Linked DNA regions of Homo sapiens: region 2 is linked to region 1. The links come from fine-mapping of genetic effects on gene expression. A gene starts in region 1. The other region holds a variant in brackets. All regions are shown on one strand. Distances are from middle to middle. Region 1 holds the start of BMP6 (bone morphogenetic protein 6). Region 2 has its middle 21 kb from the start of BMP6.

Region 1 (8,333 bases):
GAGAACCTCGGTTCAAGCCCAGGAATTGTTTTCCCAGGGACTGTAACACGATTCTCTGTGAAGTAGCCAGGAGCGCCAGTCTTCCTCCCCTTTGTCCAGGTTAGGACTACCCCCAAGAGGCAATAAAACATTTCCCCAGAGCTGCCAGGAAACCTGGAGGCGGGGTGGGGGCGGGGGGTGAGGGTGGAAGGAGAGGAGAGGAAGAGAGCAAGGGGAGGAATTTACTAAGTCAGAAGCAGCAGAAAAGTTAGAATAAGGAACAGCGCTGGTCCTCTGCCACCCTGGCCCCCACCCACTACAAATTTTATTGACTGGCATGAGAATTTCCTTAGAATGCTTCCTGGAGGTGGCTCAACCTTGGATTTGGTTCCAATAAATTGTGAAAATTCTTGTCCAATCAGAACCCCGGGCAGTGCAAGCAGCCAGATTGGCAGGCCCTGAGCCTGGACTCCTGTGAGATTCTGTTTCACGAATTTCCCAGGAGGATTTCTGCACCACTTGGATGCCAATCGCCCTGCCTCCACACCCTCCCTTGGCTCTTACCCCCCATGTTCTCTCCCTCAAAGCTCAGTGGAGTTGGGAATCATAGATAGGCTGGTAAAGAAATCACCCAGATAGTCTACGCGGGAATCATTCCAGTAAGTAATGCCGTTAAAAGATGAGCGTCTTTGACGTGGCTGGGAGACCCGTGTGCTCCTTTGGCGAGTGTCTGCTCACCCACTTCAGGGCCTGGGCACAACCACCGTCTCACATGGGAAGGAGGCCCGTGAAGCCCCACCCCGCCGCGCAGCTGCAACCATCCCGGGCGTAGCCAGTGCACCCATGATCTGTCCGCTGACAGCGCGTCCCTCCATCCTATGTCTGCGCTAAACTAAGTCAGCTTATGAATGAAAAGCAGTGCAAACCGGAGGCACTGACTCCGAAGAAAAGAGTCTTCTCTGCACCCTTCTCATTTACAGATGAGAAAACTCAGTGGGGTGGGAGGGGGGAGAAAGGGCGATGTGACTGGGTCCGGGTTTGCCACAGAACATTTGTGGCGGAGCTCCATTTAGCCGCCCGTGAATTTCCATTCTGTTGCCTGGCAACCGGTTCAGAGGAGCTCAGCGCCCAACCCCGGCCCCTACCCCGCACCCTTTCTCTGCCCGTGCAGCTTGGGCTGCATTGATCAAAGGTTCAGCCTTTGGGGACAATGGCCAAGGGCATGTGAGCCGGGGCACAGGATGGATTACCCCAGTTGAGCTTTCATCCCGCCCCAAACAGAAGCGAGCCCCGCCCGGCCGGGATCCGAGCGCCTTCCGCGGTCCTTTTGGGACTTCCCTCTGCAACCTCCCCTAGTGCCGTGGATACCTCTAAACATACTCATGCCAAGTTTTCAAAGTTCCCAGCCGCTGTCGGATTCCCTAAAAGTCTCGGTGGGAAAACTGCACTCCAAGTTAGGGGGCAAAAGGCGGCAGTTTAGAGGGGAAAATCGTACTGAAGAGCCCTCTTCCCAGGATGGCCACACTCGGGCTGGACTCTCCTGCTGCAGTTGAGTTAACCTGGCCAGAGCTGGGCAGAAGTGAAAAAAAGCGCGGAACGTGCTCAGGGAGTCCGCAAATACACGCCCGCTGGGGACAGCGCTCCCGGAGCCCCGCGGCCCGGCCGGCCAGCCGCCTCTGGGGGCCTCGGCGCGCAGCCCTGCCCGCGGCGCGGGGGAGCGCATGTGCCGCCCACCGCCGCGCAGGTGGCGGGAGCACAGCCTGCCTGTCCCCGCGTTCTCTGGCGCACCAGGCGGGACCCGCGCGCCGGGAGCTCCTCCACCCCCTCACTCCATCCCCTGGGCCCGGGACACTGAAAAGGGGGAAATGTTCTCGTCATTACGTTACCCCAAATCCTTACCCAGGTTCACAAAGCTCATGACCATGTCCGCGTCGTTGAGGAAGGCGCTGTCCTGCGCGCTGGTCAGTGGGGACGCGCCGCCGCTGCCAGATCCGGGGGCCAGAAGGCTCTTGCGGTTGAGCGGGTGCGCGGCGCCCGGGGGCGGCTGCCGACGCTGGGACGAGCTGGCTGCTTCGTGGGGCCAGGACTGCTGCCTCTCCCCCTCCGACGCCCCGTCCTCGTCGTTGTCGGCGGACAGGGCGTTGTACAGATCCAGCATGAAGAGGGGCGCGGACTTCAGTCGCCCGGGAGGGGGCTCTCCGCGAGGCAGCTGCTGCTGCTGCTGCTGCTCCTCCTGCTGCCGGAGCGCCGGGGGCTGCGGCTGTTGGAGGCCGTGCAGGGGCCGGGGCCGGTGCGGGAGCCCCAGCACCGACAAGATCTCCTTCTGCATCTCCCGCTTCTCCTGCGTCTTGAGCCGCCGGTACAGGAAGCCCGAGGAGGACTGCGGCGACGGCGGCGGCTGCTCCGTGCGGCCGGGGCTCCCGCCGTCCCCCAGCAGCTGCCCCCCGGCGGCGGCGGCCGCGGCAGCGGGCAAGGGCGGCCGCAGCGGCGGGGGCCCGCAGCAGCTGCACAGCAGCCCCCACCACCAGCACAGCCACTGCGCCCTCCGCCCCAGCCCCGGCATCCCCGCCCGGCCGGGCTGCCCCCGCGGATCCCGCGAGGCGTGGAGCGGCGGAGCGAGGCCGGAGCGCGGCCGCTGTGGCCCTTGGCGTGAGCAGTCCCCGCCACCTCTCGGCGGGCTCGCTTCCCCTTCCTGGCCCTCAGTCCTTATCTCTCATGGTCGTCCGGGGCGCCCCCAGTTGCCCAGGCTAGAGAGGTGGCGAAGGGGCGATCACCAGGAGAACCGCTTGGAGGGGAGGAAGGGGAGCCTCACAGCCTCGCGCAGGTCTCTAGAGGCGCGCGGTCCAGGCCAGGTGCGTCTGAGTCCGGGCTGCACTGCAGCCTGCGCCCTGGCTCCTGCGAGTCGCGGCGCGGTCACTCTGGGCCTCGCTGGCCGCACACGTGCGCTGCCCCGCGCTCTCCCTGGCGACTGAGTGGGACCCGGGGCAGCGGGGAGCGGGGCCGCTCACGAGCTGCGGGAGATGCCCGGCATCACCGTGGCGCACGCCCCTCCCCAGATCGCAGGGCCACCATGAAGTTTACCCCGTTGCAGGGCCCAGGCTGCGGCGACAAGGCGTCCCGAAATGCCAGTCTATTCCGCGAGGTTTAACTTCCTTCTCGCTCACGAACTCCGCGCCCCTGAGCTCTCGGGCACCGTCGCTCCCACTCAAAATCTCCGCGCGCCGCACGCCTCCTCAAGCGGAGGCGGCGAGGATCTTGCTTTCCGTTCGGCGGTCGCCCGGCTGCCCAGCAAACCCGCTCGCAGAAAGGATGGGAAGGAAGGGGGCTAGTGCACCGAGCAGCGGCCGCGGCGGCGGCGCCGGAATTCGGTCTCCCGCCTCTCCACGCCGCGCTCCCCGCAGCGGCCAACGTGGGCTTTCTGCTGCGCGCCCGGCTCAGGTACCTCACTCCAGCCCCGGGACTCCCCGCCCCGCGGTAACCGACAGGCTGGCAGCCAATGGGGACGCGAAGCTCGCGGGCTATTTAAATAGCCCCGCCCCTTCTTTCACCCTCCCTCTCCCGAGAGGCGTCGCCTCCGCCGCGCGTAGGTTTCAAGACCCGGGAATTCTTGGAGGCATGCGAAGAGCCGCGAGGTGCCAAAGGCGAAGAGGTCATCGCTAGTAAGAATGATCTGACCAATACCCCGATCTGAAGCTTTCTCTTTTACCATCATTTAAAAGGCCTAAGTTGATGCTTTAACTAAATAAAAATAATAACAGCGATTAAATCACTATACTGCCAGAACTGAGGAAGAAAAGAAAAATGATAGCTTTTCCATCCCTTCCTTAGTTTCTCTTATTGATGTAATGTAGGCGTTTAGCGGACACGTGGCTTTCCACGGCAGCTGCTGGAAGTTGGGACACACCCTCCGGGGAGGCTACTCACAAACTGACCACAGAGAGGGCCACATGTAACCCAAGCCAGCGTCCTGAGGGTTTGGGGTCGGATGTGTTGACTTCTCTGTTCATTTGTGCTTTGGTTTGGCTTCTTAAGCTAGCACCCAAAAGAAAGAGGGTGTAATCAGACGATATATTAGAAAAGGCGTCCCCTGTCTTCTTGGAAATGTCTTGATTCTCCAGCTTATCTATTAATGTTGCATTTTAATATTGAAATACAATGTGACTTATATGGTGCAAGATAAAACTTGAGGAGAGGTGATAAAGATAACTCCAGGAAGAGCAGGGGCTTGGCATGCATTCTGAATGGTCAGGACAATAGACAGGGTCCTGAAACACAGGTTCCTGTGGATTTTAGACAAGATAACACCACCACCAACACCATTTGCCAATGAGGACACAAATTCATTTGCCTTTACCCCGCCCGAGAACATCCAGTCATCTATGGATCGTAGAAGCAAATTCACGTAAAACATGAAGGTTTTTTACTTGGTGAAAATTGTGTGGAGTTGAAAATAAAAACTGCAATTTTCTGACTTGCCAGCCTTAGTCCAAATGGTCCTAGGCATTTGAGAGTGAAGTCAAATAGATTATAGACTGTGGGATTCATGAATTTATGAGATCATAGGCTTTCTGTTGGTCCAAATCTTATAAGCATTCCTATCCTATTTCCAAGAATCTATTTCTCATGGGTAAATAGAGACCACCACTGACTCCAACTACCCACTGAGTCCTTCTTTCTAGTTCTGCCTTGGCCCAGACACAAGTGGTCATTTAGAAGAGTCTTTATTTCTACAAATATCTGATAGCTATGAATTTCAGGGCACAAAACTTATGTGAATGCCAGTCTTTAACCATCTCTACAGGGATTTCTTCCATCCGAAAAGATAATACGATACTTTGTCTGGGATGCCCGGACCCTCAGAATTCAAGAGCCCTGTCACTTCTTTTTTCTGTAGGGAACATGTTAGGGACATAAATTCACTGCAGTGCCCCACAGCAGCCAAGAGCTCTGCTCAGAAGATCTGAAATTCCAGCAAATACACCTAGGCTTCCTGCCAAGAGCCTCCTTTTTTAAACCTAGTTGCACCTTCCTCATAAGACTTCTGGTGAGATGCAGGCAGAGTAAAAGACTTTCTACCTACGAGGGCAGTGGGGAAGACACAGGAAACTCAACATTTCAAGCATGGATGAGGGCACCTTGGTGGGGCTATGTCATTTAAAACACAAAATCGAGGGGTGACCCACCTATTGTAGAGGTTGAGCATCCCTAACCCAAAAATCTGACATCCAAAATGCTCCAAAATCTAAAGATTTCTGAGAGCTGACATGATGCCTCAGATGGAAAATTCCACACCTGACCTCATAGGATGGGACATGGTCAAAACACAGTCAAAATTTTCATCCACAAAATCATTTGAAATATTGTATTAAATTACCTTCAGACTATGTATATGAGATATATACGAAACATAAATGAATTTCATGTTTAGACTTGGATCCCATCCCTAAGGTATCTCATTATGTATATGCAAATATTCCAAAATCTAAAAATCTGAAATTTGAAATACTTCTGGTCCCAAGCACTTTGGATAAGGGATACTCAACTTGTGTATGCATCTATGGGGTGGACCTAGTGCAGAAGACACACACACACATGCACACACACGCACGCCATCTCTCCCTTTCCTTAGACACTAAGAAGTAGATGGGTTCATGTGACATGAGTCTAAAGTGACTATCAACTAAACATCTGAGCAGCAACTCTGATTCAGGTCTGTTGCAGGCTCCTCACTCCACCAAGATGGATTCTCAGTTTCTGTCGAATGGGGCTAGAATGAGGAGGTGTCGAGAGTACCTCCAGGTGATGAACATGAGAACGCACATCTCCCTTAAGAGCCAGAAGAAGCTCCTAAAAAAACTGTGCAGTGAGACATTACAATGATCATAAGGACAGTGACATCCAACTGAGGATGTGCTCCTCTTCTGTCCACTATGGCTCCCAACATGTGCACATCATGTTTGCGGGACACATGCAGGCAAGCCCTTGTATCCATTGGGACAAAGGGGACAGGAAGAGATACAGTTCTAGGATTTTAATAACCTTGAAATTGGGACTACTCTTTCTCCAAGCCAGTTGGACCTCTAGGTGGATAAAAATCCCCTAACCCCCACCTTGTCTACTCCCTGCTTCTGGGACCCTTCCCCATTAGACAGCCCGAGTGCTCCCCTGGAAGCCTCAGGACAGGGAGCTAGACAACGTCCACATGTGATTCAAGAGGAGGAGGCATGGGGTGGGTGGAGTTGGAGGGACAGGAGCAGATCTGGGCTTTGAAGTCCGCTGGAATGTATGAACCGACTTGATAAAATTAGAGGTAACTTCGCCCCCTGCAGGACACCAAAATATTACCGCCCCTTCCTCTGCGGGCCCGGAACAAGCTTCATGAAGTTCTCTGTGTTTCTAAAACATCTGGGTGGAAAGAGGAGGAATTCGATCAAGAAGCCGGATGTGGGAGCCAATCCAATCAAACATCTGGTTGCTTGGCTGACATTTCATGCAGATGGCCTTCAGTTTTCTGGCAATACGTTGCCTGTCCCATCTCCCTGCCCCACTTAATGAAGAAATGAGGAGCCCTCACCAGAAAGCACAGGTTCATCCCATACTTCCAGTGATAGTGGGAATAGGACGGGAATTCTGTCTCCAAGTGTTTATTAAGGCACCATGTAATTCACGCAACAAATCCTTTAAACCTGTAGTTGTCCTTGTTCCTTATATATTCTGAGGGTTTCTGTTATACATTTATAACACACTTGACCAAATAGCTTCTATTTTGTAAACATGCTGTTTATTAATTTGACATATTAAACACATATTCTATATTACCTTATTAGCAATAAACTGCAACTTCAGTCTTGGATTTTATATTAAATTTTACATTGGTCCCTTTCAACTGCATTTCCTGAAGATGTAAGTTGCTGCTTTTAGAATTAACTTAATAAAAATATCTTGGCCAGGTATGTAATAGCAACACTTTGAGAGGCTGAGGCAGGCAGATCACTTGAGCCCAGGAGCTCGAGATCAGGCTGGGCAACCTAGTAAGACCTTGTTTCTACAAAAAAAAAAAAAAAAAAAAAATACAAAAATTAGCCGGGTGTGGTGGTGCACGCCTGTAGTTCCAGCTCCTCAGGAGGTTGAGGTGGGAGGATCGCTTGAGCCAGGGAGGTGGAGGTTACAGTGAGCCCAGATCACCAGATCACACCACTGCACTCCAGCCTGGGTGACAGCAAGACCCTGTCTCAAAAAAAAAAAAAAAAAATCTTGTAAACTGTGTAGCTGTCATGTTTAAAAGACTGAGGTCTAGCCTCCTTGAATTATTGAGACGTTCCACTCCAAAGACCAACTTTTTATCTTTACTATTAGCATAAGGACCTGAGTACTTCTTAATGTTAATTTCAAAGTATAATAATTCGATCAAATTTTTAAAATATCGATTTAGAGTTGAGTGAAAAGAAAATAGATAAATGGTTGTAAAGTATGAGAAATGAAAATTTGCAAGTGAAATAAGTATTGCTTCTGAAAGCTACACCTGTAAGACAGCCTTCAAAAGACCTGTCTCATCCAAAAGTCTGTGGTAACATTTACATTCAGTCACACTCCGCTTTCACTGTCTACTCAAAAATGCTGGGCATTCACACTTCAAAATATCATTCAAGTCATCATATTTTCCTACTCATGAAGGACATCTGGTGGCAAAGTGAAAAACTAATACATAAATCTGTTTCCAGAGATTTTTTTCCACACCATAACCCAAATAGCAAATCTGTTACTTGTACGTGTTTCAAGCTTTTCACACAAGCTCAGATCTCTATGACCCTAGGATTTAGGCTGTCTACATAATATTAAGCAACAGAATATTTCGAGACATCCAGATGATTAAATCGTTTGTGAAATTTTCATTGAGTAATTAACATGTGCAGACTAAGTCTTCAATTTTTTTTCTGAGCAAAACAATGCTTAACACATTTCCATGACTAGTTTTACTATCCCTGAAGAGTTTTATTCCAAGAAATGATTGGACACTTAGTTAACTGGGGTGCATGAGGCTCCCTGGCCTGTGCTGGCCTCTGAGCTTCAGTCCATTTTGTGACCCCACTCTGTACCTCCTGTCCAGGATGTGTCTCTGTGTCACTAGGAGGTAACATAAAAATATGACATTATCCTGTTAGTAATCCCCTTAACTAGCAAAGCCGTAACCAGTGGCATGTGGAGCCAGGGAAAAGCACACTGGTGGTAAAATCAGGTTAAAATGAAAGTCACTGACAGCTTTTTAAAAAGAAGAGAAAGGCTAATTACCCAGTCTTCATTCATTCATTCAACACATCTTTCCATGCCTATGTGCCAGGCAGTGGTCTAGGTTT
Region 2 (8,333 bases), 20 kb after region 1:
GAAGACTGGAGGAAACATACAGGAAACCTGAGGCTATGCTGAGCATCTGTTGTCCCACTAGTGATGGTGATGGGATGCATCTCTGGTCCACTCTGGTTCAATCTGATGCTGGTGCCCTCTACTGATATGGTGGTCTCTACAAACGCAGCATGTGTGGTTTTAGGGGGCGAGTTCAGGCTCACCTCTGCCTTCCCCATCCTTGATGACCCCTTCAGAAAGGGGCAGCCATGTGTCTGGTTCTGACAGTGGCCCATACTCTCAATCTCCTCTCAAAGTTGGTCCTGTTTTTGCCTCAGATGTCTCCTAATTACTCTCCTTTCTGTTTCTCACCTAACTTCTGTGCTCAATACCCATAGAAGTCTCTGAAGTCATTTTCCACGTACCCCGAAGGCCAAAGAGAACTGAAATGAGATCTCTTCATTTAAAGCAGGGGTGTCCAATCTTTTGGCTTCCCTGGGCCACACTGGAAGAAATTGTCTTGGGCCACACATAAGATATACTAACACTGGGCTGGGCGCAGTGGCTCACGCCTGTAATTCCAGCACTTTGGGAGGCCAAGGCGGGCAGATCACGAGGTCAGGAGATCGAGGCCATCCTGGCTAACACGGTGAAACCCCGTCTCTACTAAAAATACATGAAATTAGCCGGGCATGGTGGCTGGCGCCTGTAGTCCCAGCTACTCGGAGGCTGAGGCAGGAGAATGGCGTGAACCCAGGAGGCGGAGCTTGCAGTGAGCCGAGATAGCGCCACTGCACTCCAGCCTGGGCAACAGAGTGAGACTCTGTCTCACCAAAAAAAAAAAAAAGATATACTAACACTAACGACACTAACGATAGATGATAAGTTTAAACAAATTCATAAACAAATCTTATAATGTTTTAAGAGAGTTTATGAATTTGTGTTGGGCTGCAGGCAAACCTGTCCTGGGCCGCATGTGGCCCATGGGTTGGGCAAGCTTGATAAAACACACTAAACTGTGTGTTTCTTACTCCCTTTCCTGGCAAGGGCTATTCCAGAAAGACTCATGCCTTAGAGTTCCAGGCAGAGGAGGCATCCATTTCTACATACATACATGTGTACTCCTAAACTCCCACGACACATGTCAGGCTCCCCCAGGAATCCCTTCCCCAGGCTCCCCTCTGCTCTTTGGCAGCACAAGAGTGGGCCAATAGGTTTCCAGCTTCATGGGCATGCAGTCAGGGAGCGTGACACCGGCCTTCCCTTCTTGTGATTCATCTCTGCAAGTGATTCTCTTGCTGCTCACCACACACACTCGGCTTTAAGGGCAACAGCCCTCCCTACCCCATGGTGAGGAAGTGGAAAAGCCATGCATTCCCCCACCAGGCCAGTGACAACTGACTCCAGTGATTCCCTCTCTCTACCCTCCTTGGGAACACAGGGAAGGATAAGAGTCATGGCTGAGGGTTGTAAGGAAATTGTGCAGACTCTTTAGTAATCCTTGATGGAGTGTCTGACTCTAAATGTGGGCAGTTTCTGGTACTTATTGTCTCTCTAGCCTCCATTTTGGACCTCCAGGTACCGAGCCAGGAAAATGGCAAATGTTTCACCAAGTGTGACAAACAAGCATGGGAGGATATTCCAGGGGATGGGAACGGCATATGCAGAGACCAAGAGGCATGCAAGATCATGGTTATTGAGAAGTAGATCAAAATGCTTCATTGGCAAGGGCTCCAAGACCTGGGTCCCAAGTGTAGGCCTGGTTGTAAAGACACCTCTGTGTCCTTCTAAAAGGGTAAAAATTATGTGCCATAGGTGAGACAGAGTCACTGAAGAATTTCTTGCAAAGAGGTGACAAGACAATCTGCATGCTAGAAAGGTGATTCTATTGACATTGTGGCGGGTAGATTATGGAGATGAATCTAGAAACAGGAGGGAAGGAAAGAAGGGTGTTACTAATGTTTCAGATGAGAGGGGAGAAGCCCCTGTACTAGAGTGATGGCAGTTGTGTTGTGGGAAGCAAACAGAGGTGAGGGGTGTTTAAGATACACACTGGATGAGGCTTTGTGATTAATTAGATGTACAGGAAAATAGAGAAGGAGAAATTGACAATGATCCATTGGTTTCTGACTTGAGGAACCTGGTGAACAGCAGTGACATTTGCAAAAACAGAGTTCAGCAGAAGATGATGAGGTCAACTTTGAACATATGAAGTTTGAGGCCTTTATAGAACACACACACATGGAGCTGCCTAGTTAGACAGGAATAGCCCTCAGGGTCAGCCTGGCTGGAGACATGAATTTGACTCAGGACAGAGTTTCGAGGGACCTATGATGTTTTAGGAGTGAGAGGAGGAAGAGGAACCCACAAAAGAGACTAAGAAGAATTTGCCATTGAGATAGGTGGGAAACTAAGGAGAGAATAGGCCCATAGAATTCACCAAGCAGGAGAGAGCGCAGTGGAAATAATACAGGACAAATCAAGTAAGATGGCAGTTGGAGAGTTTCCACCGGCTGTAGCCACCAGAAGGTCATTTGAGAGCCCGGGGGGTGCAGCTGCAGAGAGGTAGAAGCTGGCATTTAAGGCGCCGAAGAGTTCACGGAAAGGGAAGAAAGAGAGAGGCAGAAGAAGTAGAAGGCCTGCTGTGAAGGAAAGAAAGAGATAAGAAAGCCGGAGGGGTGCAGGGTCAAGGAAGGAAGGTGTGTGTGGGCAAGGGGTGGGCAGGTGGTTCCACTTTAACTCAGAGAAGTGACCTGAGAGTGACTCTGTGAGCTTCCTGCAGCTGTGTGCTCTGAGATGACGGTGAGTTCCAGAGAGGCACACTTCTAAACTGGTCATGGGACTCACTGTACTTTACTTACCAGCCTTCTGAACTATGTAACACTGCAGTGGAATTTAGCAGCCAGAAACTAAATCTCCAACGTCTAAATTCCAGTTCTTTGTCTCCGTCTCTACCTTTGCTACCAATAAAAGAAATACAGAAGCCAGGAAGGCCATGTCAGTGCTGTGGAAGTGCCATGGATTCCAGGGGTTCCCCTTGTGGCATCATATTCACATCGAATATTTTGATAGAAATCGTAAGCATTTCAGAAAGCATGCCCAATTCAATTATTAATCATCTGAATCAACCAATAACTCTTCCAATAGTCTCCCAAAACTAGATGAACCCCATACACTGCAGGGCTAAATGCTGCTGAGGAAAAATACCCAGTACGGGGACTGGTGTCAAGATCATCTTCACCCATTTCCAAGGACACTGCCTAGCAAGCTCTCTCTTCATCTCCACACTAAGGCCATATCATCGATCCAGACAGCCTCAGTCTGCCCAACCCCAGCTCTCCTCTTGCCCTTCACTCTGACCCCACTTCATGCTTCCTAAAGGCAGGGGAAAAAAAACAACCATTGGAATGAAATGTCTTCATCTTCCCAAACCAAATCTGTAAACCCATCTTCTCCGCCTTTCCTTCTTGTTACCACAATGGAAGTGTCTCTCTTATCCCAGGAGCAGCGTAAAACAGTGTAAAATGCTCTGCATGCATTCTGGCCACATCTTCTTGTGACTGCCCAAGGGCTTTCCTTCTTTGATTAGCTGACAGTGTATGTCTGTCTGAGATTCTTTTTCTCACACACCACCACTGCCACCATCATCAATCTCTCCTTCACTGATGAATGACTTTCATTATTGTGCCCAGATACTTCAGCGTGCTCCACTTTCAAGATCGTCCCTTCAGGCCAGGCATGGTGGCTCAGGCCTGTAATCCCAGCACTTTAGGAGCCTGAGGTAGGAGGATGGCTTAAGCCCAGGAGTTTAAAGCCAGGCTGGGCAACAGAGGGAGACCCTGTCTCTACAAAAAATAAATAAAACCAAAAACTTAGCCAGGTGTGGTGGCACACACCTGTGGTCCCAGCTACTCGGGAGGCTGAGGTGGGAGAATCACTTGAGTCCTGGAGGTCGAGGCTGCAGTGAGCCATGATCGTGCCACTGCACTCCAGTCTGAGCAACAGAGCAAGATCTCATCCCAAAAAAACAAAACAAAACAAAACAAAAAAACGAGAAAACACCACCACCACCACTTTCCTTCAATTCCCTGCCCTATGTACACCCTGTCTTTAGTCTGTTCAGGCTGCTATAACAAAAATATCCTAGAGCTGGGTGCAGTAGCCCACGCCTATAATCCCAGCACTTTGGGAGGCTGAGGTGGGTGGATCTCCTGAGCTCAGGAGTTCGAGACCAGCCTGGCCAACATGGTGAAACCCCGTCTCTACTAAAAATACAAAAAAAAAAAAAAAAA[G/AAG]AATTAGCTAGGCGTGGTGGCGGGCACCTGTAATCCCAGCTACTAGGGAGGTTGAGGCAGGAGAATTGCTTGAACCCAAGGGGCAGAGGTTGCAGTGAGCCGAGATCGTGCCACTGCAATCCAGCCTGGGCAACAAAAGCGAAACTCCGTCTCAAAAAAACAAATAAAAAACAAAATATCCTAGACTTGGGTGGTTTCTAAACAACAGAAACTCACAGTTCTGAAGGGTAGGAGGTCTAAGATCAGGGCACCAGCGGACGCCTCGGTGTCTGGCGAGGACCTGCTTCCTGGTTCGTAGACCGCCATCTTCTCACGGCCAGCACACACGGTGGAAGGGACAAACAAGTTGCCTTGGGCCTGTTTTATAAGGTTACTAGTCCCACTCAAGGGCTCTCTCTTGCAACCTAAGCACCTCCCAAAGACCCCATCTTTTAATATTATCACCTTGGGGGTTAGGATTTCAACAGATGAATTAGGGAGGAACATAACCATTCAGACCGTCCAACACCCTCTCCATCTTTCCCGTTCCCTTGACAACTAAATTCCTATTAAGTGGGTCTGCCAGTAGTGTCTCCAGGTCAACTCACCCCAACTAGCTTCCACCCCACACCCTGTGGGGTCATCACTGGCCCCCCGTTGTCAGGTCCAAGAGCTGCTTTGGAAGCTTCTCATGGCATGGTTTTGAGGGAGTCCTCCTCTTCCAGGTCTATCCTATCCCTTCTTCCAACTCCTCGCCCCTCCTTTTTCCAGCAGCAGGCATGATGGTCTTAAAATGTAAACTGTACCGCTCCTCAAAAAATGTTAATAGCCTCCCCACATTCAGCAGCCTCAAAATCATTCATCATCCGCTGTGCTCTTTTAACATCTGGGCTGCTTCCATCTCCTAGAGGTCCCAATGTCTCTGCCTCAGGCACTTGGCACACTTTGTTTGCTCCATCTAGAATGCTCTTCCCTCGCCTCCCCAACCCTTCACCCAGCTGTATCCTACTTCAAGGCTTAAATGCCACTTCCTTCAAGAGGCCTTCCCTGTCTAAATTGAGTTCCCAGGTAATCAACTCTCACAGCTCCCTCCAAAGTTTGTTTTAGTATGTACCATCGATTTAAACATTTATCCATTTGTGTGTGATTGTTTAATGGGCATCTTGCTGAGAACTCCATAACCTTCAAGAGGGCAGATGATACCTTCCATACAACTTATACCACGCGCATTTTCACCCCAGAACCCAGAATTATTTGTGGCTCCCAGGAGTTACTGAACAAATACCTGTCGAATAAAAGAAATTACTATTTTGAAATAAAATTAATTTGCTGAATAAAGTGAATAATTATTTTGAAAAACCTTGTCTAATTTTAAAATTCAATTATATTCTATCATATCGTTTGCAAAAATTCTTGTTTTCAGAAAAAAAAGTTAGAAAAAAATTCTTCCTTTTTCTGATCACAGGTCCCTATGATGTCGTGGAAAGGATGTCACCCAGCTAAACACACAGGCAGACAGCCCTGGCTCTGCCCTCTGAGTCAGAGTTTTCTCATTTGTAAAACAGGAGTAACAATCATACCTAACTAGTACTAATGGAATTATTGTGATGATTGAATAACGACAAAAATAGGAAACATGCTTTGCAAACTGGAAAGTGCTAAGTAAACATAATATGATGATGATGCTGTTTAATTCTTTAGAAAAGGATGTTTTCCTCATCAGTTTTTCTTAAAAAGAAATAAGCCAATTAGTTGCTTAAGTACTGCAAAAATATGTAGCAGCCACCTGCTTCTACTTGACATCTATTTTTTCAATTCATTTAGAAATACACACTGCACACTCCATTGAGAAGAAATTGAGACAGGTCTCTATTTTTTAAAAGGAGCATTTTTGATGCAATAATTGGATCAGCTTATTGAGAACATCATACTGGGATATGAATTCACATAGAATTTAACTTGTTGACAAAAGCAAGAAATATCAAAAGTCGAATGAACAAAAATCTTAAACAAAAGGATTCCTTTGTAACAGTTAGACTAAGAAGCTATCTAGCTCCAAAGTTCAGGGTATTTGGGAGAAAAAATAGGGCCTGTTTCCTTGCAGGAGTCTTTTTAAATTGTGAACTTTTTAAGCCCTAAAATATGGTTACATAAATATACATCAGCCTCCCTTGGAGAAGAACTTAGTTATGAAACTGGTAAAAAGTCTAAATAAGTGAATTTTTTAGTTCAGCCACCGATTATCCAAGCAAGTTTCACTTGAGGAAATTGTCCACACCCTTTTTACTCACAATCCCTGCTTCTCTTCCCTTAAATGCCTCATAGAATATTCCTGCTTCAACCAAAGAGGGGAGCATTTGGAAGTCAGATTATTTCTAGTCTTCTGTAAGCTTTAAAGGGTATCAGCTGTTTCTTTCAAAAACTATGTTTTATACATGTTAGTATGCCTAACATTACATTTCTTCTAAAATAAGGTATTGATTTAGATGTGCTTTTTAAAAAATAACTTACTAATTCAGAAAGATTATCCTTCAACACTATATATTCATTCCTTTATAAAGCTGACAAAGTCACTCAATAGACCAGCATAATAGTTTATTTTTGCTGACATTTTTCCTGTTTTACACGACCATGGGTATATAAGCCCTACCACCATCTCCATGTATCCTCTTGATGTCTAAAACATGCTTTGTAACTGTTAAATATGTGATTAAACTGTCAAAAGTATATGGAGGCAGCTGCATAAATTTTGAAACCAAAGTCAAAGTTCTATTTGTTCTATGACTGTGTGAGTGTTGCAAACTTTACAGCATTATGGAAAGTTAAAAACCCCACCCCAACATCTTTTTTTAAAACTTATGCTATAATAATTTCTTCCAAAAACTAGTCACTTATTAACGTGTTCTGTTTCTAAGATGAAATGATATATGATATACATATTTTTAAAACATTTTATTGAAGTATAATATATATTCAGAAAACTACATAGGTAGTAATGCACAATTTGATAAACTTTCACAAACTGAACACACATATGTAACCAGAACCTAGATCAAGAAACATGACCAGCCCCTCACACCCAGTTCCAGCAATTCCGGGAACCCATCCCAAGAACAGCCACCATCCTGACTTGTAACAGTCTAAATTGGTTTTGCCCATTGTTAGGGTTTGGATTTTCATCCCTGCCCAAATCTCATGTTGAGCTGAAATCCCCAGTGTTGGAGGAGGGGCCTCGTGGGAGATGACTGGATCAAAGGGGCAGATTTCCCAATTTGCTCTTCTCGTGACAGTGAGTTCTCAGAAGATCTGGTGGTTTAAAAGTGGGTAGCACCTCCCACTTCACTCTCTTCCTCCTTCTCTGTCCATATAAGATAAGCCTGCTTCCCCTTCACCGTCCACCATGATTGTAAGTTTCCTGAGGCCTCCTCAGCCATGCTTCCTGTACAGCCTACAAAACTGTGAGCCAATTAAACCTTTTTTCTTTATAAATTATCCAGGTTCAGGTATCTCCTTATAGCCATGTGAGAACAGACTAATACACCCATTTTTGCATTTCATATGAATGGAATCCCACCATATGCTGATTTATGTCTGTTTTGTTCAATACTATATTTTATACATCGAAATAATACGTTAACCTCCAATGCTAACCTCTACAGCACTGTAATTTTTATTTTATTACAACACAATATTTCAATGTGTTCCAGGAACACAAGAATATTCATTATTATAGATAACATTTCAGTGTTTATTTGTTTATAGAAAATCAGTAAATAAAACTTCAGTTTATTAACATGTGTTTCAAAGTTCACTGCTTTGCCAAATTGAATTTTGGCAATTTAAAAAATAATCTAAAAATCATTATACACATAAAGATATAGGAAAGATTTTATTTTTCTTGAAATAGGTACAACTTCAATTTGTTCTAATATTCTGAACATTTCTCTATATTCTCAGTGTTTTCTCTCATGACATTTTGTGATCTAAATGATTTTAAGATTTATAAACCAAATTCTTTGGAACAGTCAATTCTTTAGATCAATTTGTTCTCCAAAGCAGGTTATGACGTGATTCAAATGACATACTAAACCTGGAAGTGAATCC

The links. PIP is the estimated chance that this variant, and not a neighbour inherited with it, causes the effect.
Region 2: its variant is the best candidate, but not a certain one, in a credible set for the expression of BMP6 in monocytes (Quach 2016, PIP 0.88).

Annotation. Positions count from the first base shown.
Region 1 is chr6:7,721,165-7,729,497 of GRCh38, reverse strand. It overlaps BMP6 (bone morphogenetic protein 6), which reads right to left and starts at 3,399. Exons shown (of 7, transcript NM_001718.6): 1 at 1,879-3,399. The coding sequence starts at 2,542. RefSeq lists an enhancer at 6,164-6,223.
Region 2 is chr6:7,700,905-7,709,237 of GRCh38, reverse strand. No RefSeq gene overlaps it. Among named protein-coding and RNA genes, the nearest start is that of BMP6, 21 kb to the left of the region's middle. The variant G/AAG (reference allele first, on the strand shown) is at 4,251.